Regions from separate parts of the Homo sapiens genome. Here regions 1 and 2 are each linked to region 3. Evidence: fine-mapped expression QTL. A gene starts in region 3. Each other region holds a variant in brackets. All regions are shown on one strand. Distances are between the middles of the regions. Region 1 holds the start of MAPK8IP2 (mitogen-activated protein kinase 8 interacting protein 2). Region 2 overlaps SHANK3 (SH3 and multiple ankyrin repeat domains 3). Region 3 holds the start of ARSA (arylsulfatase A).

The links. PIP is the estimated chance that this variant, and not a neighbour inherited with it, causes the effect.
Region 1: its variant is fine-mapped to the expression of ARSA in whole blood (INTERVAL, PIP 0.97).
Region 2: its variant is fine-mapped to the expression of ARSA in neural progenitor cells (Aygun 2021, PIP 0.95).

What each region holds. Positions count from the first base shown.
Region 1 is chr22:50,597,262-50,608,110 of GRCh38, forward strand. It overlaps MAPK8IP2 (mitogen-activated protein kinase 8 interacting protein 2), which reads left to right and starts at 3,532. Exons shown (of 12, transcript NM_012324.6): 1 at 3,532-3,622; 2 at 4,528-4,633; 3 at 5,962-6,237; 4 at 6,365-6,458; 5 at 6,580-7,803; 6 at 8,107-8,182; 7 at 8,301-8,473; 8 at 8,564-8,673; 9 at 9,397-9,504; 10 at 9,660-9,730. The coding sequence starts at 3,558. RefSeq lists a silencer at 2,942-3,121 and an enhancer at 3,911-4,411. The variant C/T (reference allele first, on the strand shown) is at 5,652.
Region 2 is chr22:50,706,050-50,713,865 of GRCh38, forward strand. It overlaps SHANK3 (SH3 and multiple ankyrin repeat domains 3), which reads left to right. Exons shown (of 25, transcript NM_001372044.2): 20 at 23-103; 21 at 5,566-5,589. Among named protein-coding and RNA genes, the nearest start is that of ACR, 28 kb to the right of the region's middle. The variant A/G (reference allele first, on the strand shown) is at 2,538.
Region 3 is chr22:50,625,751-50,632,688 of GRCh38, forward strand. ARSA (arylsulfatase A) reads right to left here and starts at 2,402. Exons shown (of 8, transcript NM_000487.6): 1 at 1,806-2,402; 2 at 1,416-1,656; 3 at 1,084-1,302; 4 at 841-1,010; 5 at 404-528; 6 at 186-313. The coding sequence starts at 2,029. It overlaps LOC124905149 (a long non-coding RNA gene), which reads left to right and starts at 5,744. Exons shown (of 2, transcript XR_007068161.1): 1 at 5,744-6,938. RefSeq lists an enhancer at 580-1,362 and a silencer at 2,297-2,486.

The DNA of each region.
Region 1 (10,849 bases), 27 kb before region 3:
TCACTAATGTATCCCTGAGCTGCACAGAGCAGCCCTGGGGGACTGGGAGGACATGTCCCCGGTGTGAGGAGCAGGGGAAAGGTGAGCCTTAAATGATCACCAACAAACAACAGGGCCTGTGTCTGGGGCTTACACCACGACATGTGGTCCTCGCAGCACCATTGCTCAGAGGAAGAAACCAAGATCTCGAGGAACTGAGTAATTTGCCCACGTTCAACAAGTTGGTGCAAAATGAAGAGTGGCTCCCGTATTTCAGACTTTAAGGCCGACGATCTTCCATCTGTGCTCTGGGGGCAAGATGGGAGGTCCACAGATAAAATTGCGGGCGGTATCCCCCATCTCATGGTCTTTACGCTCATGGGACCTGGGAGTGACCATCTTTTAAGAGGGAGGGAAGGAAGGGGAGAGGCTTGAGGAAGGTTTTGGGGATTAGGATCTAAGATGAAATTTGAGACTATAAGACTTCAGATTGGATGCTGTGGCTCATGCCTGTCATCTCAGCACTCTGGGAGGCCATCACCTGGGCTTGGGCCCAGGAGTTTAAGACCAACCTGGGTAACATAGTGAGACCCTGTTTTTACAAAAACAAACAAAATGCCAGGTATGGTAGTGTGCACCTGTGGTCCTAGCTACTCAGAAGGCTGAGGCAGGGGGATTCCTTGAGCCCAGGAGTTTGAGGCTACAGTGAGCTAGGGACACACCACTGCACTCCAGCCTGGGTGACAGAGTGAGACCCTGTCTCAAAAAAAAAAAAAAAAAAAAAGATTTTAAGCTTGCTGCAATTCCAGATGAAGGTAGATCCTGGAGGCACTTTGTGGGAGAGGTCACTACACTTGAGTATTAAAGACTGTTGACAGATCAGAAATCAAGGAACTGACTGACCAGGGTATTGGATGGGTCATTTATGTGGATGTCCAGATGAACCAGTTTGGTGAAAAGACTCAGGATCAAAAGCCAATCTGGAAAGTTGAGGTCAAACTCTCTGTGAAATCTGGGAAGGGATCTGGATTTTTTGGGAAAGGCAGGGAGTGGTTAATAGGCCCAGACTCCCTCAGAAATGGGGAATGTTCTTAGTGCTTCTAAAAGGGAAAAGACTGTTATGGCAAAGACCTGATGCCCCAGACTGGGTTAGAGACCATAAGCTCTCTCATTCATTCATTCACATGTCTGCTAAGCACCTACTGTTTGCCAGGCACCATGCTTGGAGCCTAGGGCTTCACAGAGAGATGACAGCCTCTCTTCTCTCCAGCCAACCCAAGTCAAGAAGGCAAGCATAAACTAGTAAATGGCTTTTTTTTTTTTTTTGAGATGGGATCTCACTCTGCCCCCCAGGTTGGATGCAGTGGTGTGATCTCAGCTCACTGCAACCTTTGCCTCCTGGGCTCGGCCAATTTTTTTTATTTTTGGTAGAGACATGTTTCCAGGCTGGTTTCAAACTCTTGAGCTCAAGTGACGCACCCACCTTGGCCTCCCAAAGTACTGGGATTACAGGTGTAAGTCACTGTGCCCAGCCAAGTAAATGCCATTCTTAGAAAAATACTGTAATTGGCATAAAATATAAATTGTGATGGGACACCAAAGAGTGCAGGTTCAATCAGGCCCTGGCCACAGGCCTCTCTCTGAGCTGGAATGGTGATACCCCCCTTCCCGACTTGCATGAGCTCCTTCTGCCATGTCGTTTCTGGTGTTTGTCACTCAAGTGCCTTGTCCTTTCCTAAGGAATAATTTTCCAGGCCAGGGGCGGTGGCTCACGCCTGTAATCCCAGCACTTTGGGAGGCCAAGGAGGGCAGATCACCTGAGGTCAGGAGTTTGGGACCAGCCTGGCCAACATGGCAAAAACCCATCTCTACTAAAAACACAAAAATTAGCCGGACATGGTGGTGATTGCCTGTAATCCCAGCTACTCGGGAGGCTGAGGCACGAGAATCGGTTGAACCCGGGAGGTGGAGGTTACAGTGAGCTGAGATCGTGCCACTACACTCCAGCCTGGGCAACAGAGCAAGTTCTGTCTCAAAAAAAAAAAAAAAAAAAAAAAAAAAAAAAAAAAAAAGAATTTTCCGCAGAACTAAGACATAAAGAAATCTTAGGGCACATAACTTTCATCAAGGGGGAAAAGGGATTGCGCTTTTGTTGAAATGCCAGCCTCCTTCTTTAGCCAATATTTAGCCAGGTGCTGTGGTTCACACCTGTAATCCCAGCACTTTGGGAGGCTGAGGCCAGAGGATAGCTGAGCCCAGGAGTTTGAGACCAACCTGGGCAATACAGAGAGAGCCGGTCTCTCTCTCTCTCTTTTTTTTTTTTTGAGACGGAGTCTTGCTCTTGCCAGGCTGGAGTGCAGTGGCGCAATCTCGTCTCACTGCAACCTCCGCTTCCCGGGTTCAAATGATTCTCCTGGCTCAGCCTCCCAAGTCGCCGGGACTACAGGCGCCCGCCACCACGCCCGGCTAATTTTTTTGTATTTTTAGTAAAGACGGGGTTTCACCATGTTGGCCAGGATGGTCTCTGGTCTCGATCTCTTGACGTCGTGATCCACCCGCCTTGGCCTCTCAAAGTGGTGGGATTGCAGGCGTGAGCCACCGCGCCCAGCCACCGGTCTCTATTTTAGAAAGAAAAAAAGTGTCCTGCAGTCTCTCCCTAGTTCTGCGCCCTCAACCCTGATCTCCCGCCTCCTCCCACAGCCACCGTCTCGAGCTCAGCTTCAACCATGGCCCTCCCCACAGGGCTCCATCCCAAGCCAGAGCGGGTCAGTTCCCTACACAGGGCCCAGCAACACGGTGCCCAAGAAAAAGTGTTTCCAGTGGGACGCATGTCGCCTCCGTGGGTGCTAACTTCTCCCAGTGCCCGTCGGTACGTCCGTCCGGCTGTGCAGTCTCTACTGAGTGCTCAAAGTCCACTTTTAGCCCCAGCCAGCATCCTCTGAGTACCTTGTGCTCGATTCTGAATCCAGCCCTGCTCGGCGACCCTCGTGCAGACGTCCCCGTGCAGCCCCGGTCAGCACCCCGTGGGGACAGCTCCGATCAGCACCCGACGGCGGACAGCTCCTCCCGCGCCTCCCGCCTCGCCCGCCACCCCGCTCCGGGCCGCACCCGGGTTAGGGTTCCTGGGGGGATCCTGGGCGCGGCGGCGCAGCTCCCGGGGCCGCCCCGGCCTCTCGCCCAGAGGAAACAGCCCACGGCGAACCCGAGGCCCGCGGACCCCGGCGCTGCCTCCTCGGCCTCCCGCCCCGCGCGGGTCCTCCAGGGCGGGGCCCGACGCCCACCCGCCCGCCCCTTCCCTCCCGCCCCTCCCCGGGAAAAATCCTCATCGCACGCCCGGCCCTTCCCCAACCAGCGCCCGGCAGTGAAGCCGCCGCCTCTCCTCCAACCAGCGTCCCCGGCCGCGTCCCTCCCCCGCCTCCCCCGCCGCCCTCCCCGCGCCGCCGCGGAGTCCGGGCGAGGTGCGCGGGGCGGACGCCGCAGGGCGTGTCACGAGGTGAGCGGGGCGGGCCGAGCGCCGGCGCGGGGCGCGGCGAGGCTCCCGCACCCCCCGCCGCAGTCGCGGGCCTCTCCCGGAGAAGATGGCGGATCGCGCGGAGATGTTTTCTCTCTCCACCTTCCACTCGCTGTCGCCGCCGGGCTGCAGGTACCCCCCTCGGCGCCCGGGCCGGGCGGACCCTCCGCTCCCTGCGCACCCCCCCGACCCCGACCCGGCCCGGACCCCCGTCCCCGCCGCCCCAGCCCCGCCGCCGGCGCGGACCCGGCCCCGGCCCCCTGCGGTCCCTGAGCCTCGGCTCGGGCGCCCCACCCCCACCCCGCTCCCACTCCCTCCATCTTCACCGCGCGTCCCCAGCCTCAGTGACCCCCGGGCCCCGCCGGGATTCTGAGCCGCGCCCGGCCTGGACGGCTGACCTGTCAAGGGTGGAGGCCCTGGGCCGACCCTCTGCGGGGGAGGATGCGGGCGGGATGCGGGCACACCCTCCCGGCGCGGCGTGTCCCGGTGGCCTTGGCCTCTTTCAGTGGACGCCAGACCTGGCCGATAGGGCCCGGCCGGGAGAGAGTGGAAATCAAGCCCGGAGCCCTGCGGGAAGGGACTGGGGTTGGGAGGACGCTGGGCCTCTGGGTTTAGGCCTCACTCCGCCGGAGAGGGGGAGACAAACAGGCCAGACTCTCTTCCCAGAGCAGGAGCGACCCCTCCCCATCTGCCGCTGCCGCGTTGCAGCTCCCCCTCCCCTGCTCTGCAAGACCCTGACCCCAGGGGCCTGGAGCTGCGAGTGGAGGGAGGAGAGGCTGCTGGCTCTCCAGGGAGGCGGGGTGGGAGGGGTGGGGGCAGGGTTGGCTCCTCCGGGCAGGCCTGGCTCAGATGGGGGAGGGGATCCACAGGCGAGCAGAGCTTGGGGGTCAAGATGATGGCAGGATGTGTTCCGAGAGCTGGGGGCTGTGGAAACCACTGGGTGTAGGAGCTGACGCCTCCCTCTGCCCCTCCTCAGGGCCAGTTGCCAGGCAGGGAGTCCAGGGTTGGTGGCTCTCTGACCCTGGTCTCCTTTCCAGGCCTCCCCAGGACATAAGCCTGGAAGAATTTGACGACGAAGATCTGTCTGAGATCACTGATGACTGTGGCCTGGGCCTCAGCTACGACTCAGACCACTGTGAGAAGGTGGGAGAAGAGTTGGGGACACAGATCCAGCTCAAGGGAGGGCCTCATTAGGTTCTTCTTAGCGTTCACTTGGGGTTTTAGGGTGGGTGTGAGCTCAGCCTTGAACCGGGGACTCCTCTGATGGCTCCTCCCCACTTAACCCTTGAGGTTTCCTTGGTATCAACTCTCTCTTATTCCAACACATTGCAGGCCTCCACGCAGGGCCTTCCCCAGCATTCTCCCCGACCCCATCGGTGGCCAGCCCGGGGCAGGGAGGTGCTCCTTTGCTTTGGGTGCCCTCTGTCCTCAGATCACTCCCAGAAAGATCTAATCCCTGGCAGCTGCCATCACAACCTTGTCCCCTCTGCAGCCCTGTGCCCTCGTCTGCAGCTCCCATCTGTCTGTTTCATGTCTCCCCCTGCTGAAATCTTTTCTCGTCCATCTCTTGCTTCTCCTCCTCCCTGTCTCTCCACATTTCTGCTTTCATTTATTGAAGAACATTTCTGAGCAACTGCCATGTGGCAAGTACTGGGGGCTTCTGGGTGCTGGGAGTGGAACAGGACAGCTGCTCTCTGGAGCTGCAACTTAGTAGGGGAGAAAGACTTGTAAGGGACAATGGCTGCCCACGTGTCAAGGGCTGCATTCCAACAGGGACATAAGTTCCACGAGGGGGAAGGGAACCCAATCCACACTGAAGGAATCAGGGAGAATTTCCAGAGGAAATGTCAACCATGCCCTGAGGTTAGCAGAGCCAGGCAGATGGGGTAGGTAGGAGGGAATGGAGGAGAGGAAGTGCCAGCATGGGGAATAACTGTGCCAATGGCCCTGGGGTTGGCGCAAAGTTGGTGAATCCTCAGAGTGCAGAGGCTGTCTCTCCATTTCTGCATCTGTTTGATGTTTACTGAACATCCGCTGAGCCCCAGGTCTTGTTCTTGGGGGCGGGTGCAACAGTGCATAACATGGACATGACCCTGCCCTGGTGGGGCTTGCAACAGACCAAAAACCATGTCCAGTAACTGTAAGTTGTGTTAAAACGCTG[C/T]GAAGGGAACACAGTGCTGGTGTCAAATGTGATGGGGTTCTGCAGTTAGATGAGTCTGAAAGTGGGGCTGGGGCTGCTCTGAGAATCCCTGTCATTCAGCTGTAGAGTTTAGGCCCTTCCCAAGAACTGGAGTGATCCCAATGTGTGTTAGGCAGATTTTGAAAACATCGCCCTGTAGACAGAGGGGCAGAGTGAGCTGGAAGGGGCTCTCCTTTGACTGATGCTCCCCGATTTCCCTTCTCCTAGCACCTGGGCCCCTGGGCTACTGCTGCCCTCTGGCCCAGCCCTGCTATCTCCCTCCGTCCTGCAGGACAGCCTCTCCCTGGGGCGCTCGGAGCAGCCGCACCCCATCTGCTCCTTCCAGGATGACTTCCAGGAGTTTGAGATGATCGATGACAATGAAGAGGAGGACGATGAGGACGAGGAAGAGGAGGAGGAGGAGGAGGAGGGAGATGGGGAAGGCCAGGAGGGAGGAGACCCTGGCTCAGAGGCACCTGCCCCCGGGCCCCTTATCCCCTCCCCTTCCGTGGAGGAGCCCCACAAGCACCGGCCCACCACCCTCCGTCTGACCACACTGGGGGCCCAGGTGAGTGCCCGGACCCACAGCTCCCTGGAGCTGAGCCTGGGTTCATAGCACCTGGGCTGCAGCCAGCCCTGCTCACCCCCTGGGAGCTGGCCCTCCTCAGGACCGCCGTCATGTATCTCCACCCCAGGACTCCCTAAACAACAACGGAGGCTTTGACCTGGTGCGTCCGGCCTCCTGGCAGGAGACAGCGCTATGCTCACCCGCCCCGGAGGCCCTCAGAGGTGAGGGGTGGTGGGCCCGCGGGGCGCGGGGAAGCGGGGGAGGAGGGCAGGGAGGATGGACTGGCTGCTGGAAGAGGCCTGGGTGGTGCAGAGAGGGTGACCCCACCTCCCTGCCCAGCAGAGCTCCCGGGCCCCCTCCCTGCCACGGACACCGGGCCCGGCGGGGCGCAGTCGCCAGTGCGCCCGGGTTGCGACTGCGAAGGGAACCGGCCTGCGGAACCCCCTGCGCCAGGGGGGACTTCGCCCTCCTCAGATCCCGGCATCGAGGCTGACCTGAGAAGCCGCTCGAGCGGCGGCCGCGGGGGACGTCGCAGCAGCCAGGAGCTGTCCTCGCCCGGCTCCGACTCGGAGGACGCGGGCGGCGCGCGCCTGGGGCGCATGATCTCGTCCATCTCGGAGACGGAGCTGGAGCTGAGCAGCGATGGCGGAAGCAGCAGCAGCGGCCGCTCCTCGCACCTCACCAACTCCATCGAGGAGGCCTCGTCGCCCGCCTCGGAGCCGGAGCCCCCGCGCGAACCCCCGCGCCGCCCCGCCTTCCTGCCCGTGGGCCCCGACGACACCAACAGCGAGTACGAGTCGGGGTCGGAGTCGGAGCCGGACCTCAGCGAGGACGCGGACTCGCCCTGGCTGCTCAGCAACCTGGTGAGCCGCATGATCTCCGAGGGCTCCTCGCCCATCCGCTGCCCCGGCCAGTGCCTGTCTCCTGCGCCGCGCCCGCCCGGGGAGCCCGTGTCGCCGGCCGGCGGGGCCGCCCAGGACTCCCAGGACCCCGAGGCGGCCGCGGGGCCCGGCGGCGTGGAGCTGGTGGACATGGAGACGCTGTGCGCGCCGCCGCCGCCCGCGCCCGCCGCGCCTCGACCCGGCCCCGCGCAGCCCGGGCCCTGCCTATTCCTCAGCAACCCCACGCGTGACACCATCACGCCGCTGTGGGCCGCGCCCGGCCGCGCCGCCCGCCCGGGACGAGCCTGCTCCGCCGCCTGCTCCGAGGAGGAGGACGAAGAGGACGACGAGGAAGAGGAGGATGCCGAGGACAGTGCGGGGTCCCCCGGGGGCAGGGGCACGGGCCCCTCGGCGCCGCGGGACGCGTCGCTGGTGTACGACGCGGTCAAGTACACGCTGGTGGTGGATGAGCACACGCAGCTGGAGCTGGTGAGCCTGCGGCGCTGTGCTGGGCTGGGCCACGACAGCGAAGAGGACAGCGGCGGGGAGGCCAGCGAGGAGGAGGCGGGCGCGGCGCTGCTAGGCGGCGGTCAGGTCTCGGGGGACACCTCGCCGGACAGCCCTGACCTCACTTTCTCCAAGAAGTTCCTCAATGTCTTCGTCAACAGCACATCTCGGTCCTCCAGTGAGTGAGAGGTGGGGAAAAGGGGGGTGGCCCAGAGGAAGGTGCAGACTCCCTGGCCCCAGTCCCAGGGTCCCCCACAGTGCCCAGGGCCACCTGAGGGTCTGGCTGTGGTCAGGGCTGGGTGCCCTCTCCCACCCAGGACATGGCATGAGGTGGCCTGCTCTGCCTCAGCTCCTTCCCGCTCGTAGGACACCTACACCGGACTGTGGAGGGGACTTGGCCTCTGCCCAAGGCCAGGCCTCTAAGCACTACTCTGACTCTGTCTCCCTGTCTCCCCCGCCTCTGTCCTGCCGGGTCTCCCAGGCACCGAGTCCTTTGGCCTTTTCTCCTGTCTGGTCAACGGCGAGGAGCGAGAGCAGACTCACCGGGCTGTGTTCAGGTACGGCCTCCCTCCTTGCTGGCGGTGGCCCCAGCCTCAGTCCCTGCCATCACGGAACGCCAGTGGACACGACCGTCAATCCCGCCCCCCTCCCCAGTGACCTCTCCCCCAACGGCAGGTTCATCCCGCGGCATCCAGACGAGCTGGAGCTGGATGTGGATGACCCTGTGTTGGTGGAGGCCGAGGAGGACGACTTCTGGTTCCGTGGCTTCAACATGCGCACGGGGGAGCGCGGTGTGTTTCCTGCCTTCTACGCCCATGCGGTGCCCGGCCCTGCCAAGGACCTGCTGGGTGAGGTCCCAACCCCGAGGGGAGGCTTTTCACCCCAGATCCTCCCCTGTGCCCCTGCCTGACCTGGGCCCTCTGTGCCCCGCTCCCCAGGGAGTAAGCGGAGCCCCTGCTGGGTGGAGCGCTTTGACGTGCAGTTCCTGGGCTCCGTGGAGGTGCCCTGCCACCAGGGCAACGGCATCCTGTGTGCAGCCATGCAGAAGGTCAGTGTGGAGGCCGGGCAAGTGCAGGCTGAGGGTCCGCTTGGCGGCCACACCAGCACTGCAGGCTGGCACAGGGCTTGAGGCTCCAAGGTCTGAGGTCTGATTTCCTCCAGGGAGGGTCTGGGGGATGCTGCAGGGGGAGCTCGGGGTGGGTACCCCAGGCCCTGGTTCAGAGGCCTGAGCAGGTGAGTCTAGGGCAGAGCACAGCAGCTGTCCCTCATCACCTCTGGGTCTCTGGGCCACAGATCTTCCAGGTGGCCCCGACTGCCATCAGCCCTTCCTCTTCCCATCTGGAATCAAGACCAGCCCTCACAGCCCCTTCCCTGGGAGCCCTCTACTCATCCACTCACTCAGTGGACGTTTAGTGAGCACCTGCCCAGGCACCAGTACTGAGGCTGAGGCTGGGGGGCAGTAGGGAGCAGGGCAGAGCAGCCCAGGGCGGGTGAGGTCTCTGTTCCTGGCTCCTGAGCCAAGCGCAGCAGCCTGCCTGGAGGAGCAGAAGGAAGATGAAGCAAGCTGACTGCAGAGAGGCGATTGCTCCTCCTGAGCCTGAGGAGTGGCCAAGGCCACACCCCTTATGTCTTCCAGAATTGCATCTCAGGGTCCTCAGCATGTGTGTCCTCAAACATAAGCTAAAAGGAGCAGAGGCGTAGTCCCACCAAGGGGAAAGAAAGGCCCTTGTGGGCTCCTCAAGACCCTCTTCTCCCCCAACTTCTTCTGTAGATTGCCACTGCCCGGAAACTGACCGTCCACCTGCGCCCTCCTGCCTCCTGTGACCTCGAGATCTCTCTTCGGGGGGTCAAGCTGAGTCTGAGCGGAGGAGGGCCCGAGGTGGGAGTGTGGGGGACTGGGGACCGGGGACTGGGGGATAGGGTTAGGCCACGGAGTCCGACGGGGCCAGGCTGGCAGGGGTGTCCAGTAGGTGGGAGGCAGGGGTGGCGCCAGGCCTCCTTTGACACAGGGACTTCTGCCCACCTCTGCTCTAGTTCCAGCGCTGCAGCCATTTCTTCCAGATGAAGAACATCTCCTTCTGCGGCTGCCATCCCCGCAACAGCTGGTGAGAGTCTGACCGTCCCCGAGTCCCCCAACCGCCCCCACAAACCCTGAGAGTCCAACCGCCCCCTGAGTCCCCACAGACCCTGAGGGCTGCCCGTGCCCAGCCCTGAGAGCTCCACCTGCACCCACTTAGCTCTGTGAGCTGAGCCTGCAGTGGCGCCTGCTCTGAGCTGGACTCAGGAGGCGTGGGTCAGACAGGCTTGCATCCAGTCTGGGTGGAGAGAGGCACACGGGCGAAGGATGTGAGAAGCCTGTGTGGGTGCAGAGGACGCCTGAGTGGGCCTGGGGCTCAGGATGGCCAGCCTGGAAACACAGCAGGTGACAGCGGTGGGGAAGTGGATCTTCCTGGTGGGGTCTAGCTGAGCCAAGGGTGTGGGATGCACTGGTCGGGGGCTATATAGGCTCTGGGGCCCGCGTGTAAGGGGAGCAGCTAGAAATGCCGGGGAAGACCTGGACCCTTTTGATTATGCCAAGGAGCTGTACTTAATCTTGCTGGTAATGAGGCCATAGAAGGCTCCTAATGGAAGGAGGTGACACAGGGGACCTGGGGGCTGCTGAGGTTATACAGGTGCTATGTCCTGAGACCAAGTGTGCAGATGCAAGAGGCACTGAAGAGGCAGTACAGGCAGGACCTAGGTTGACCGGCTGTAGAGGGTGACCTGGAAGAGACCAGGGTGACGTCTCCCTGGGGGATGGTTGTACTGCAGCCCACACACCGAGAGGGGATGCGGGATCAATCACAAACGGTGAGACTGAAGTGGCCGTTGGTCCCATGGGTCTGGAGTTTAGGAGGGAGACCTGGAGGGAAGATACCAGGTCAGAGCAGGTAGATCACTGAGACGAGAGGGGAATGGCCAGGCAGGGTGAGGGGAGGAGGGGAGGAGGAGGTGCTGGCATAGGAGCAGCAGGCCAAGGGGGGCTGCCAGCTTCCCTCCAGGCACAGGCCCCTGCCCTCTGTGTCCCAGCACCCTAGAGGAAGGAGATCTGGGAGGAACCAGAGAGGCAGAGCCAGCCAGAGGCTGGAAAGGACTTGCGGGGAGTTGGAGGAAGCAGGCTCACAGACAGGCAAGACACAGCAGGGCACGGTGCTGCCAGGACTGAGGCGTGGGACAGACGTCAG
Region 2 (7,816 bases), 81 kb after region 3:
AAGGCCTCCCTCTTCTTTGCAGCCCCACCGCCCCCCAAGAGGGCCCCCAGCACCACACTGACCCTGCGCTCCAAGTCCATGACAGCTGAGCTCGAGGAACTTGGTGAGTGGCGGGGGTGGCGGTGGAGGTGGACGCAGGTGGACGGTCCATGATGGGCAGACAGGGCCGGGAGACACAGGTGGTACGGGAGGGCAGGCGGTCCAGCCAGAGGGTAGGAAGGACAGGTGGGTACAAGAGCAGGTCAGAGGTGAATGGGTGGGTGCTGGCGCGATGGGGAAATTTGGTGCTTGTGGGGTGAGGAGAGGGTGGCATGTGGAAGGGGTGAGATGTGAGAGGCTGGGGATGGACAGTGGGGTGTCCAGGACAGATGACGGGGAGCAGGGCCTGGCCCACCAGTATGTTTGCATGTGTGTGCATGTGTGTGCGTGTGCTGCCTCTGGTTTTCCACGTCTCCACTTTGACTTTACTCCTGCATTTCATCCAAGTGAGGAGAGAGCGGTAGTGAGGTGACCAGGGTCTGCTGCTGGCTCTGCCAGGCACTGGCTGTGTCAGCTCTGTGTTTATTTTACCCTCTTGGTGACTGTGCACTCATTGACAGGTGGCCCTGCTGACCCCACAGGCCACAGGAGTACTGTCGGTGGGATGATGGGGCAGGGCCTCGAGCGCGGCAGGAGGGGAGCAGGAGTGTGTTGGGGTTTGATGGGGCATGTTCTGGGCACAAGCCCTGGTTGACCATCAACAGCCTCTTCATGGGCAGGTCTTATATATGTGTCCATTAACAACCTTGTCATGTGCACGTCCAGATATACTTGATCATGTCCTGACGTGACAGTCAGTAGCCTCTTCATGGGACTGTCCCATTACGTGTGACCGTTGTCCTCACTGTGGGTATGTGCTATACATGTGGCCATCAACAGCCTCGTCATGGGCATGTCCCACTGTACGTGACAGTTGACAGGCTCTTTCTTTCTTTTTTTTTTTCTTTTTTTTTTTTTTTGAGACAGTTTCACTCTTGTTGCCCAGGCTGGAGTGCAATGACACGTTCTCGGCTCACTGCAACCTCCACTTCTTGGGTTCAAGTGATTCTCCTGCCTCAGCCTCCCAAGTAGCTGGGATTACAGGCACCCGCCACCATGCACGGCTAATTTTTTTTTTTTTTTTTTTGTATTTTTAGTAGAGGCGGGGTGTCACCATGTTGGCCGGGCTGGTCTCGAACTCCTGACCTCAGGTAATCTGCCTGCCTCGGCCTCCCAAAGTGCTGGGATTACAGGCGTGAGGCTCTTTCTTTCTGTGATCTGAGCCCAGTTCTGTTCCCAGACTTAACTCTGCCTCTGGTCATAGAAGGAACCCCAACTTTGGTCCTAAACTGAACCCTGAAGTCCTGGCCACAGGAAGGGACCCCATTCTGGTTCTAGGCTGAGCCCTATCCCTGGCTTCAGTCTTGGTTCTACCCCAGCCATAGAAGGAACCCTTTTCCTGGTCCCCAGAATTATCCCTGACCTCACTCATGAACCAAGCCCTGACCCTGTCCTTGCCACAGGCTGAGCTGCCCCATGCCAAGCAGGTGGTCTTAACTGCAGTTTAGTTCAGGGTGGAGAACAGCTACCAACGTCCATTGGGCTGACGTGGTCAGAATTTTCACCATAGCTATTCCAAATAAAATAAAACCCAAAGAAAAAAACAAAAAACCCCATGTAGATAATTCAGAATGAAAAGGAGAGAAACCAAAGCCAGAGGCTTCCATAGCTCGTTATCTAGTACGCAGGGGCAAGGGGTTGGGGTCCTGAGGCCCCCACAAGGCTGGGAGACGTGGCTGGACCTGTGAGAAGCGGGAAGGTTAAAAACCAAGCCCAACCACTGGAATTAGCTTCGAAAGAACTGGAAATCAGAGAAGAATATGAAAAACATTAAAATAAAGTAAATTGTCACAAAGATTAAAAGAACTAACAGAACTAATGAGAGAATAGGACAGAACAAACAAGCAAAAAAAGAATAAGCACATTTTAGAATGATTCTTTTTTTTTTTTTTTTTTTTTTAGACTGAGTCTCGTTCTATTACCAGCTGGAGTGCAGTGGCGCGATCTCGGCTCACTGCATCCTCCGCCTCCCGGGTTCAAGTGATTCTCTTGGCTCAGCCTCCTGAGTAGCTGGGATTACAGGCGCACAACACCACACCCAGCTAATTTTTTGTATTTTTAGTAGAGATGGGGTTTCACCATGTTGGCCAGGCTGGTCTCGAACTGCTGACCTTGTGATTCACCTGCCTCGGCCTCCCAAAGTGCTGGGATTACAGGCGTGAGCCACTGCGCCCAGCCAGAAGGATTCTTAAAGAACTGTTATTGAAACAAAAAGTGTAGTCACTGAGATAAAAAAGAAAGCCATGCCTGGGATAAACAGTACACTAGACCCAGGTGAAGAAAGAAACAGCAAGTTAGAAGATAAATCTGAGGTTACCCAGAATATAGCACAGAAATATAAGGAGATAGAAAATATCAAAGAGCAGTTAGGACACACACACACAAAAATCACATAGATA[A/G]TTCAATGGGACTATTGGGAAAATCCCAGCATCTACCTAATGCAAGGCGTGGAAGCAAAAATAAAATGTTGCCTGGAGGCAATATTTGGAGATGAGATGGCTTAAGAATTTCCGAAAGTTGAACAAAGACATGAGTCTTCAGTTTAAAGAAATATAAGTCTCAGCAAGGAAATAAAAACAAATCTGTATCCACATCTTTCATAGTAAAACTGTAGAATGCTGTGAGCAAGCAGAAATCTTTAAAACAATGAGAGAGGCTGGGTGCGGTGGCTCATGCCTGTACTCTCAGCACTCTGGGAGGCCAAGACAGGTGGATCACTTGAGTCTAGGAGTTTGAGACCAGCCTGGGGAACATGGCGAAACCCTATCTCTACTAAAAATACAAAAATTATCCTGGCATGGTGGTGTGTGCCTGTGGTCCCAGCTACTCAGGAGGCTGAGGTGGGAGGATTGCTTAAGCCTGGGACGTGGAGGTTGCAGTGAGCCAAGATCATGCCAGTGCACTCCAGCCTGGGCAACAGAGCGAGACCCTGTCTCAAAACAAAACAAAGCAAAAAATGATGAGAGAGAGAGAGAGATGGGCTGCTGGATGTCTTAGACGGGAGCAGTGGTCCAACTGACAACAGACTTCTCATCAGCAGTGGCAGATGACAGTAGATGATGGAAGAAGAGCTTCAAAGTGTGGAGTCAAAATTCTTTTCCACCTAGAATTCTATACCCCGCTAATCCTGCTCATTCAGGAGTGAGGCAGAGAGGCTAATCCTAGACCTCTGGCACTCGGGTCATGAGGGTCCAAGGTCAGTCACGGGGAGCTGACCTGTCAATTGAAGATCCAAACTGATCAATAAGCCAGCACCAGTAGGCAGCTGGGTCCCAGGATTCTCCTGCCAGAGGCTGTCACATAGCCACAGTCAGCTGCATGTTCAGAAGGGACTCTTCTATTCAGCACCACGGGGCTTTTGGGCAGCCTGAGATCCGTAATCCTGGGACCCAGGGACTCTGCCCTATGGAAACGGAAGGACTGCGCTTTGCTCTCTGGGCTTTTCTGCCTGAAGAAACTGGTGAATGAAGACGCTCCTTTCCCTCCCCTCTGGGCTGAGTGTTCCCTCTTCTGCAACAAGCCTCAGGACAGGTTGCTGGAGTCACTTTGCAGAGCCCGGTCTTCCAGAGGAGTTGCTCACAGCTTCAGGCCACCATAATTTTCCAGGCTTTTTTCTGAGCAGAGTCTGGGGGAGGATGAAGGGACAGCTTAGCGCAGAGCCTCTACCCACACTTCTGGAGCTCAGGAAGCCACCCTGTCCCCAGAAGACAGCTGTCCTGGGAAGCCAGCAGGGCTTCTGGAAGTCCCCTCTGGAAATGCCTGATTTGAGGACGCCATGCCAGCATCAGGGTTTCCCCAGGTACCTAAGGGACCATCCCACAACCCAGTGTTTTTGCTTTCAGAAGATAGAAATGAGGCCTGTTGGTCACTGCTGGCATGAACACATCAGAACTGCCTCACACTGTCAAGAGCTATTAGAGCCCTTTAGGATCCATAGTCTATCGAGAAGGTGCCTGGACACCTAAAAAGAAAAGAAAGTGAGGTGTCAGAGAAAGCAGGTGCAAGTCGGAGGCTCCTGTCCAGGTGGCTGTTTGCTGCTCGGAGGATGTGGGAGAGGCATGGCCCTGTTGGAGGAAGGGGAGGGAAGGGGTATCCTGTGGGGGAATGGGGTGAGCAAAGGCTGGTGCCTGGAAAATGGAGGGTTGCAGAGCTGGGAGTGAGAGGAAGGGGCTGGGTGGGGACCCTCCTGAGATAGGTGGTGAGAGAGAGAAGAGGGCAGAACACCCCTCCTCCCCTCAGCACTGGGGGCTCCTCATGGTCGCCACATGCATGTCTGCTCGGTTTGTACCAGGAATGTGCTGGGGCCACAGGTCAGTGGAGACCCAGGCCAGGGAAGGCCCTGTGGCGGGTCCAAGCCCTTCCTGTGTATTCACGTTCCCGGGAGAACTCTGGACTTCCCTGTAATTTCTGGGCCCCTTTTTCTTTTGTGATGAGAACATCAGGGTAGGTGCCACACCCAGCATCTATGTGAGTGGCCTTGTCCTGGAAAAGGTTTCTGTGCCAAACACACTTGCCCTGCCTTTTAAGACCGACTTTGAACAGAACACAGAGGTGACCACCTTAATTTTCAGCGACACCTGAACTTGTTTTCTATGGGGTTTTGCCTTTTTTCTGAACAAACGTTTGACTGAGCCAAGCATGATGGAGTTGTGCATATCTGTGTGTGTGTGCGTGTCTGTGCGTTGGTGAGCGGACACGCGCTGTCTGCACCTGCGTGCATGCGGCACACATGTCTGTGCGTGGGTGAGTGGACACGTGCTGTGTGCACCTGCATGCGTGTGGCACACGTGTGTGCATGGGTGAGCGGATACGCACTGTGTGCGCCTGCATGCGTGTGGCACACATGTCTGTGCGTGGGTGAGCAGACGCGCTGTGTGCACCTGCATGCGTGTGGCACACGTGTGTGCGTGGGTGAGCGGATACGCGCTGTATGCACCTGCGTGCATGCAGCACACGTCTGTGCGTGGGTGAGCGGATACGCGCTGTGTGCGCCTGCATGCGTGTGGCACACGTCTGTGCGTGGGTGAGCGGATATGCAGTGTGCGCCTGCATGCGTGTGGCACACGTGTGTGCGTGGGTGAGCGGATACGCGCTGTGTGCCCCTGCGTGCATGCAGCACACATGTCTGTGCGTGGGTGAGTGGACATGCGCTGTGTGCACCTGCATGCATGTGGCACACACACACAAGTCCCTGCTTGTGGTTGTTTCCTCCTTGGCTTTCAAGGCATGTACCAACTGACTCCAGAGTTGGGCAGATTTGCTATTCACGGTCTGATAAAGAGGTGTAGGCTGGGGGCAGATTTGGGAGGTCATGGTTTTTGGGGGAGGTGGTGGTGAGAGGGATGGGGTGGGGAAATGAGTGTGGATAATGGGGCCCGGGTGCCGAGCCTGCCTCTTACTCCCTTTACTCTGTTTCTTGATTCCAAGCCTCCATTCGGAGAAGAAAAGGGGGTGAGTCATCTGCCTGTGTCCCCAGGGCCTTGGCTTTGCCTGACCCCTGTCTGGGGGAGTGCTGGTGTGTGAGGAGGTTCCAGCGCAAGTCAGGGTGGCCTGGAAGCCTGGGCTGCACCCTCCTGTTGGCCTTCTCCCTGGGCATCTGGTAGGGGCATGAGAGAAGGGCCTGCAAGGATGGATGGGGAGTTCCCAGGGGTGTGACCCTCTGAGACTGTGATGGCCTTGGGGGCTCAGGTGAGCCTGGGGCCTGTGAGCTGTGCAGATAGCCTGATGGAGGCAGCCCGTGGGGAGGAGCTGGGAGAGCCCCGTGGAGGCCACTGCATGCACCATGGCCCGGACAGCAGGAGGGAAAGGGCTCCGAGGGTCCCAGAGGGGGAGCTCTAGGGAGCAGGGAGACTGGGCCGTGTTGGCGTGCACGTTGCTTCTTTCTGCTGGTCCTCTCGGGGCCTGTGCTTGGGTTGTGGGACCTACTCCCGTGCTGGTTGGTTGTAGGGCCAAGCCCAGAGCTGATGGTCCCTTCAGAGCAGGGGTCTGAGTCCCACAGCACTGGGGAAGGAGCTTGGAGCTCCCCTGGCCAAAGACCCCAGGCTGTTGACTACCCTCCTGAACCCCCGTTCAGGCCTCCCTCTACCCTTTGGGGCTGCTCCCTGTATGTCCTTTATGTTCAGCCTGGTTGCAGGGGAGGGCGCATTCAGGTGGGGACAGTCACCTGGGCCTGGGTACTGAGGTCCACTGTCTGGTGAAGTCCTGGGACCCGGCTTCCGGCAGCCTCCTCTGCCTCTCGGGTGGATGGGAATCAGGGCCCAGACAGAGGCTTGAGGTGGCTTTCTCCACCCAGGCCTGTATATTTGCTCCACGTCCGTGTACCTGATGCCCATCCCTCCCTCTCTCTCGACCCACTGGGCTTTCCCTGGGTGAGGACACATCTGCCAGGCCCTTGGCCCAGCCCTCTTGAGGTCCCCTTGCTGCCTCTTGCCCCAGCCCAGGTGAAGGGCTTCCCCAGTGTCTTCTCAGGTATTAAAAACAGGTGACAAGGTCTCCTCCAGTGACCTTTTCTGCATGCCTTTGGGGCAGACATACAAGCTATTTCTGGAATCTTCTGGCTCTGCCCTCTAGCTCGTTAGTGGGGCTCCCAGGGTGCTGTGTTGCAGCCCAGGTGCTGCTCCAGTTGTGGAAGAAGTGATGGCTGGTTGATCATCCCGCAGGCTGGGGCCCTGTTGATCAAACAGCTGCAAACCCAGCTGTGTCCTGCTGTGCACCCAGAGGGCCCTGGGAGTGAGCGGGTCCACTTGGTTCCTGATGGGCTTTGTTTCCCTTAATTATCTAAAATTATTTATTTAAGAATATATCCTCTAATATTGGGGGGAGATTTATGTCAACCTCATCAGTTTGTAATTTGCAGAATTCTTGATGAATCCTTTCCCTTTTGAAAACACTTCTCACCCGGCTCCAGCACCATCGCCGGATGACCAGAAACAGCTGCTCACTAAACGTTATGTGCGTCCCGCTGTGGGTCTCTGGGATGGGTCTTCCAGACCTAGAGAGACAGCCTCTCCTAGCCCGTGGCTCAGGCGGCAACGTGTCTCCCATGATGCTGAGCCGTGTGTGCCTCACGGAGTTTTCTCTCCATTCATATCTTTACTTCTGCAGTTTCCGGGGAGTATGGTGCTTAAGTCTCATCTCTTACTTCCTAGTCAGAGATTTATGGCAATTTCGCTTCAGTTTGCTCCTGGGTTGGATAAGGGTGATGATAAAATCCTCGTGTAGTTGTGGGATGAGAGGAGTGGTTTGCATAAAGTCCCGCATACTCTAGAAATCACCAAGAACTTAACAGATGGTGGCAATGGTGACTTCAACTCCCAAAAAGAAATCATTCACTTCATGACAAAAGCAAATGAGAAGTCCCCTCAAACCAGCAGCCCCTGGTCTGTACCTGGGCCCCTGTCACCTGGTGGCACTGGGAGCTGTGCACAGGCCCAGATATCTGCAGTTGGAGCCTGTTTTGCTGGTAAACTCTTGTATCGTTCAGGACACAGGCTGGGCGCTGATGGAACACAGAGAACAGTATTTGCTCTGTTCTGCAGACCCGGAAGCTGTCTGGGGAGATGGGGCACACAGACATGAATTGTACTGAATTGTGTCCAGTGCCAGCACAGTTGTAAGCCTTTCTTCTGTGCTAATTCTCACTAGAGACACGTGAGCGAGCACTGTTTTTATGCCTGTT
Region 3 (6,938 bases):
CCTGGTGGGAGGCCCTGGACGTGCACCGCTTCTTGCCCACCCAGGAACCTGAGAGGTGGCGCCACTTGGATGCCACTCAGTGCAGGAGGCACTGAGGCACAGACTCTCAGGCACTGCCCACACTCACCCCAGGGGAAGGCCAGGACAGGGGCCAAGGATCTGGGATCAGGGGTCACCGGCCCTACCTTGCCTGTGCCCAGCAGCAGGGGGCTGAGGTCAAAGCCATCCAAGGTGACATTGGGCAGTGGGGCCCCAGCCAGGGCTGCCAGGGTAGGCAGCAGGTCCAGGGAGCTGGCCAGCTCGTGGGTCACGCCTGGGGGCAGGAGGCTGGTCAGTCACTCAGTTCGCCATCAAGGTTGGGGTGGTGGGGCCAGGGTTCCAAGGAGAGGGCCTGCGGACTGACCGGGAGCGATATGACCTGGCCAGAAGGCCAAGGCAGGCTCTCGGACACCGCCCTCGTAGGTCGTTCCCTTTCCACACCGCAAGAGACCGGAGCAGCCGCCTCGGGACATACGCATGGTCTCAGGTCTGGGACACAGGAGGCGCTCATGAGCCATGGAGCCACAGCCTCTGAGCCACCGAGGGTGACCAGTGGCCCCACACCTCTAAGTCACAAAGCTTGCCCGGAGGTGCCCAGCATGAGCCCGGCACCTCCCAGGCCTACCAAGACCAGCTCTCTGTGCACTGTGTCTCCTGACTACACCTTGGGCCCCTGCAACGTGGCCAGCATCTCCTGGCACCCCCTCACCCACTATGTTCTTGGCAAGCAGCTGAACTGCAAGGCCTCCAGGGCCCTGGCCCGTGACAGGGCCGGAGCACCCAGCTGCCCTGCTGGCATACCCATTGTCTGCAGTGAAGATGACCAGCGTCTCTTCAAGCAGCCCCAGGTCCCCTATGGCTGTCATCAGGGTCCCCACAGCTGCATCCAGCTCCATCAGGGAGTCCCCAAATGGCCCGCGGCCTGAACGCTCTGCAAAGCTCTGCCCACTGAACTGAGGGTAGTGGGTGTGCTGGGGGCAAAGACTGGAGTTAGCACTGGGTAGGGGTCACGGGCAGCCAGGGGGTTGGGCCAAGATCACTTACGTGAGAGGCATAGTACAGGAAGAAGGGGCGATCCTGGCGCTGGGCGTCGGCCATGAGGTCATGGGCGAAAGCCATGTAGCGGGCCTCTAGTCCGGGCAGCCAGGGGGGCTGCGCCTCCACGGACAGGTTGGCCAACAGTGGGATGGGGACCAGGCCCTGGTCACAGCCACCGTCGCAAGGAGTGGCCGGCGGGAAGCAGGTCAGGTTCTGGCAGGGGCCCTGAGGCGGGCAGCTGCCGTGAGGGCTGGGCTGGCAGGTGGGGCTGCGGGAGCATCAAGGGCTGGGGGACTTTGGGAGGTGGGAGGGTGGCTGAGGGCCCGGGTGGTTCCTACCTGGTCGTGGGAGTACGGGATGCCTAGAAATCGATGGAAGCCCTGATGGGGGGGCAGGAAGGCCCCCTCAGGCCCCACCCCAAGGTGCCACTTGCCGGCCATTCCTGTGAGGTAGCCTCGGGCAGCCAGGACTTCGGCCACGGTCACCTCCTCCAGGGGCAGGCCCCCCCGGGAGCTGGGCACCAGGACGCCAGGGTACATGCCCATCCGAACCGGGAGCCGGCCGGTCAGGAGGGCGGCCCTGCGGGACAAGTCACAGAGTCCCTGAGACAGACAGAAATGTGGCCTTCCCTAGAGAGAGAGACAGACGTTTTTCCCGCCCCCCTGCAATCCATTGGGAGGAAAGGGATGGAGGGTCGGGGCGGGGAAGAGGCGCGGCCCCCTCTTTACCTAGAGGGTGTGCACAGAGACACAGGCACGTAGAAGTCTGTGAACCGCAGCCCTCCCGCCGCCAGCTGGTCCAGGTTGGGAGTGGTAGAGCTGGGGTGCCCATAGCAGCCCAGGTCCCCATAGCCGAGGTCGTCGGCAAAGATCAGCACGATGTTGGGCGGACGGGCAACGGCCAGGCCAGCAGCCAGGGCCAGGAGGAGGGACCGCGGTGCCCCCATGGACATGGGACCGAGGGGTCTGTCCCAAGAGAGGGAGGGCTACTTGGCTCCAGCAGGCTCTTTCCGATACCGCAGACCCAGGCGCCGCCCTTCCCTGAGACCCCGGACCCAAATACTCCCCGACCCTGACGGCCGCCTCCTGAAGCTCCAGAGGGCCGGGGCCCGACAGTACCGGGAGACCGCGGGCTGGGACGGAACTCCTCCAGGACCAGGGCACCTTCAGATTCTCGAGCGGAGATCTGATCCTCCTCGCCTAGCGGTCCGGGCTCAGGGTCGGGGGCGTAAGTCACTTGGCGCTGACCAGCGGAGTCGGGCCGGGGGGAAGGCGCTAGAGGGAGCCCAGGAGGAGCCGGTACCGGGCTGCGGGCGCTTCCGCCTCGGCCCCGCCCCGTGACCTGTGACCCTTGCGGGGCGGGGCCGGGGGCGGGGCCGGGGGCGGGGCCGGGGGCGGGCCGGGGCGAGGGGCGTTGCTGCGCGTGCTCGCTCCGAGGCCGCCGTGTGCGCCTGAGGCTGTTGGCTGCGGTCTTGAAACGGGCTCTGGGAGCTTCCTCTGCGCGGTCGGCCCTGGCTGAGGCGTCCCGGGCTGCGCGCGGGGCTCGGCGCTGCGCAGTGTCCGGTGTCCTCTCGGTCCGGAGCTTCTCCAGAGGAGGAGCGGCTCGTGCGCCCCCAGACCTCCGGTACTGGGAGACTCGGGCCCTCCTGTAAGAGACCTGAGCGCGGAGCGTTATGGGCACCCGGTGAATGAGCAAATGGCAGGGAAAACCGTGCAGCCCCATGGACTGCGGGCTCTTCCTTCACGACTAGCAAAAGCTTTGACACCCTTTCTCCTGCGTACGCGTGTCTGTGTGCGTGTAAGCTGTGGCTGGGTGCGGGGGGCTGTGTACGTGTCTGTGTGTGGTGTGTGTGGAGTGTTTGAGGCAGGTGTGTGGTGTTTCAGGTGTGTGTGCATGTGTGGTGTTTGAGGTGTGTGTGTGTGTTTTTGTAGTGTTTGAGGGATATGTGTGTGTGGTGTTTGAGGTGGGTGTGTGGTGTTTGAGGGGTGTGTGTGTGTGGTTGAGGGGTGTGTTTGGTGTTTGAGGGGTGTGTGTGGTTGAGGTGTATGGTGGTTGAGGTGTGTGTAGTGTTTGAGGCACGTATGTGTGTGGTGTTGGGTGTGTGTGGTGTTAGAGGTGTGGCGTATGTGTGTTTGCGGTGGTTGAGGTGTGTGTGTGTGTCTGGTGTTTAGGGTGTGTCTGTTGTGTGCGTGTGGTGGTGGAGGCGTGGTGTGGTGTGGAATGTGTGTCTGGGGTCCAGTCTGGCCTGTTGCAGGGTTACGCTGCTGGGGAAAAACTCATCTGAGGACAACGTGATTGGGTCCTCGCTCCCTCGTTGGGCAGCCTTGGACTTAACCTTTTTGATCTTGAAGGAAAACACAATATGTCACCTCCAAATATATTTCCTTGACACGGTTCAAGACAGTTACTCAGAAGGACTGGAAATAGAAGAATAGCTGAAAAGCTGTCTTTTGTGGGGGAGATTTGCATCTGTGGAGAGAATCTACACTGATGCGGCCAGGCCTCCTCTGAGGCCCTCCTTGCCTGATCTGGGAAGAGTAACAGTCTGACGCCTTTAAAGGCCTGAAGGGAACATTCACCATCTGTTCTCTCTCAGGGCTGCTACCTGTGAGGTTTCATCTGTAGAACAAGGCCACCTTTGCTAGCCAGGCCTCCTCTGCTCTCCCTCCTGTAACCGGTCTTGCCACTGGTCACCTGATTTTCCACCATAAACTGTGGCCATACTTTGAGCCCATGTTCTTTCTGTAACCTCAAGATGGTATATAAGCTTCCGAACCCCATTGGGAGGTTGGGGTCATCACTCTGGTTCTCCCTGTGTGCATGAATAAATCTGTATGCCTTTTTTCTTACTAACCTGGCTTTTGTCAGTTGATTTTCTGTGAACTCAGAATGCAGAAAAGTTTTTCTCTAGGCTCCTACAGTTTTGGTGCAGTCGGTAGGATAACTAAAGTCACTCTCCTGGGAGCCTCCGTCAGGGGAACCCAGGAGCCGACAAGCTGGCAGAAAGAAGGGTAAGAAGGTCTTAGCAGCCAGGCTCCCGGCCTCTCTGGAATCTTGTCAAGCCGACGGTAAAAATGTCTGTTTACCTTGTTTTCCTCTTCAAAGTTTTAATGAGAGAAATGTATTTATGTGATTAGTTTTGTATTCATATTGTTTGATTGCTTTTTTTCCCCAGAAATAGTCGTCTTTCATTCTTGTCTTTCTGTGTTTTTCTGTCATAAAGAGGGTAGAACACAGGCCTAAAACCCCTGTAAACCCCGTCTTGGGGCCGTCCTGCAGGCTAGTCAGTTTTGCAGCTCTGATCGGATGCGTCTAGTTAGACAGACTTTGCTGTGGGTCCCTGAACTGAAAACTGGATGAGATTCTCCTCTCTTTTGATGTCCTTGAAAGCTTGAGTTGTGAGCGAGTGGGAATGATGCAGGCCAGGCAGACCCCAGAGTGGAGCTTAGCCAGTGAGGGTTTTGGCTTTGCCCAGGAAAGAATTCAAAGACAAGCCAGAGGTAGAAGAAAACAGCTTTATTGAACAGGTGGCGTTAGAGCTCTGTGACTGCTCCTGCAGAGCAGGGCCACCCCGTAGGCTGAGAGTAGCAGCTCAGGGCAGTTTTGCAGTCACATTTATACGCACTTTTGATTGCATGTAGATTAAAGGATGGTTTATGCAGAAGTTTCTAGGGAAGGAGTAGTCATCATTGGGTCATTGCCATGGAAAGGGGTGGCAACTCCTGGGTGTTGCCATGGCAATGGTAAACTGACATGGCACAGTGGCGGGCATATCTGACTGAAAGCTGCTATTGCCCCAACCCTGTTTTAGCCAATCCTCAACTGGGTCAACTAAGTCCCACCTCCTACCTCAGGAGCACTCTCTTGGCCTCTGCCAATCCGAGGTAGTGACTCGCAGGTCACATTTTGTGGTCAGTCTGAAAATGGTTGGGAACCCAAGACATTTAATATTTTAAGCAGCACCGTTTTTGTTCTGAATGTGTCAAGCTTTTAGTTTGTCTTAAGAAGTCCCTGCCAGGCGAGCTGTCAGAGCCCCGGCACTGGGAGTGGTGGTCAACTTGCGGGTTGGTAAAAAGAGTTTACCGACAATAGGTTTGAAAAAGGAAAGTTTGGCCGGGCATAGTGGCTCATGCTTGTACTCTCAGCACTTTGGAAGTCCAAGGTGGGTGGATCACCTGAGGTCAGGAGTTTGAGACCAGCCTGGCCAACATGGAGAAACCCTGTCTCTACTGAAAGTATAAAACTTAGCCAGGTGTGGTGGTGCGTGGCTGTAATCCCAGCTACTTGGAAGGCTGAGGCAGGAGAATTGCTTGAACCTGGGAGGCGGAGGTTGCAGTGAGCTGAGACAGAGCAAGACTGTCTCAAAAAAAAAAAGAAAAAAGAAAGTTTGCCGGGCACGGTGGCTCACGCCTGTAATCCCAGCACTTTGGGATGCTGAGGCAGGTGGATCACCTGAGGGCAGGAGTTCAAGACCAGCCTGGCCAACATGATGAAACCCCATCTCTACTAAAAATACAAAAAATTAGCTGGGCATGGTGTCGGGAGCCTGTATTCCCAGCTACTTGGGAGGCTGAGGCAGGAGAATCGCTTGAACCTGGGAGATGGAGGTTGTGGTGAGCTGAGATCATACCATTGCACTCCAGCCTGGGCAACAAGAGTGAAACTCCATCTCAAAAAAAAAAAAAAGAAAAAAAAAGAAAAGAAAGAAAGTTTATTAGAATGCTGCAGAAGAGTGCAATGAGGTGCCTCAGCAAGAGGACTGAGTACGCCGGGTGGATTTCTCCTTAAGGGCATTTATAGGCCTTAAAGTGGAGGCTTAACAGTAATTTGGACCATATTAGCCACGTAAGTCATGATAAATGATTACATTTATAGTAATTTTGGTGCCTTAATGTCAGCGACGGTTGTACAGTGAGTTTCGTCATGGTATTCTGGAGACACATAGAAATTATAGTTACTTACACGTTTTTTGGGGGAAGAAATCTGGAACCAGATGCCTGCTTTAGATAATAGGGAGGTTTAGTTACTTTTGATTTTCCCCAGATAAGGAGTTTTGCCTCGGAGGGCCTGTTTGATGTTTGATGGTCGCCAGGTGGTTTTTGCTCTCCTCAGGCCCATCCATAAGGGGCTTTTGTCATCCCAATGTTTGTTGCCTGGTCAGTCCTCAGAAAGCCCAATCCCAACAGGCCTACCCTGTGTTACAGGTTAATGGGTCTGTGACTGGCAGCCCCTGACAGATTGTGTGTTACTGGAGGCACTGTATGTACAAACACGTTCCTTAACTGTCTCTGGGAACAAGAGTCTTTTGCTGTCTTTGCCTATTCCTGGGAGTGAATTTTGGGGGCATCATTGGAACCTCCTCTTCTATGCCCTCTCTAAACCTGGAAAATAATCTTTTGGGCTTTCCATGAAGGGGCTTCTTGGATTGAGTTGCTATTGGAATAAATACATCATTGGAAATTCTGATTGTCAATAGCCAAAAGATGAATCCTTTACATTAGAAAGATCCCTAAATTAAAAAAAAAAAAAGATTTTAGAGGTCTCTCATTCTAAACAATTGCCTTATTTGTATTTGTGGGGAGATTAAAGGAAAGACACATAATAATGTTGTGGCTAGCCTTAGAAATCCTCTTCACAAAATTAAAGAGCAAAAATCTGACCTGTAACAAGTTAAAATCCTTTGTGCGCGCAAACCATTGCTTTGGATCCCTGCAGGATTCACAATGAAGACTGCTGCATCTTGGAAACTACTTAAAATTCTGTACTTTCACTACCATGGCCTGGGTTCAATTCCCAATAGAGGAACCAGTCCCTTTTGGTTTGATATTTGTGTGACTTTTGAATTCTTTCTTTTGTTTTTT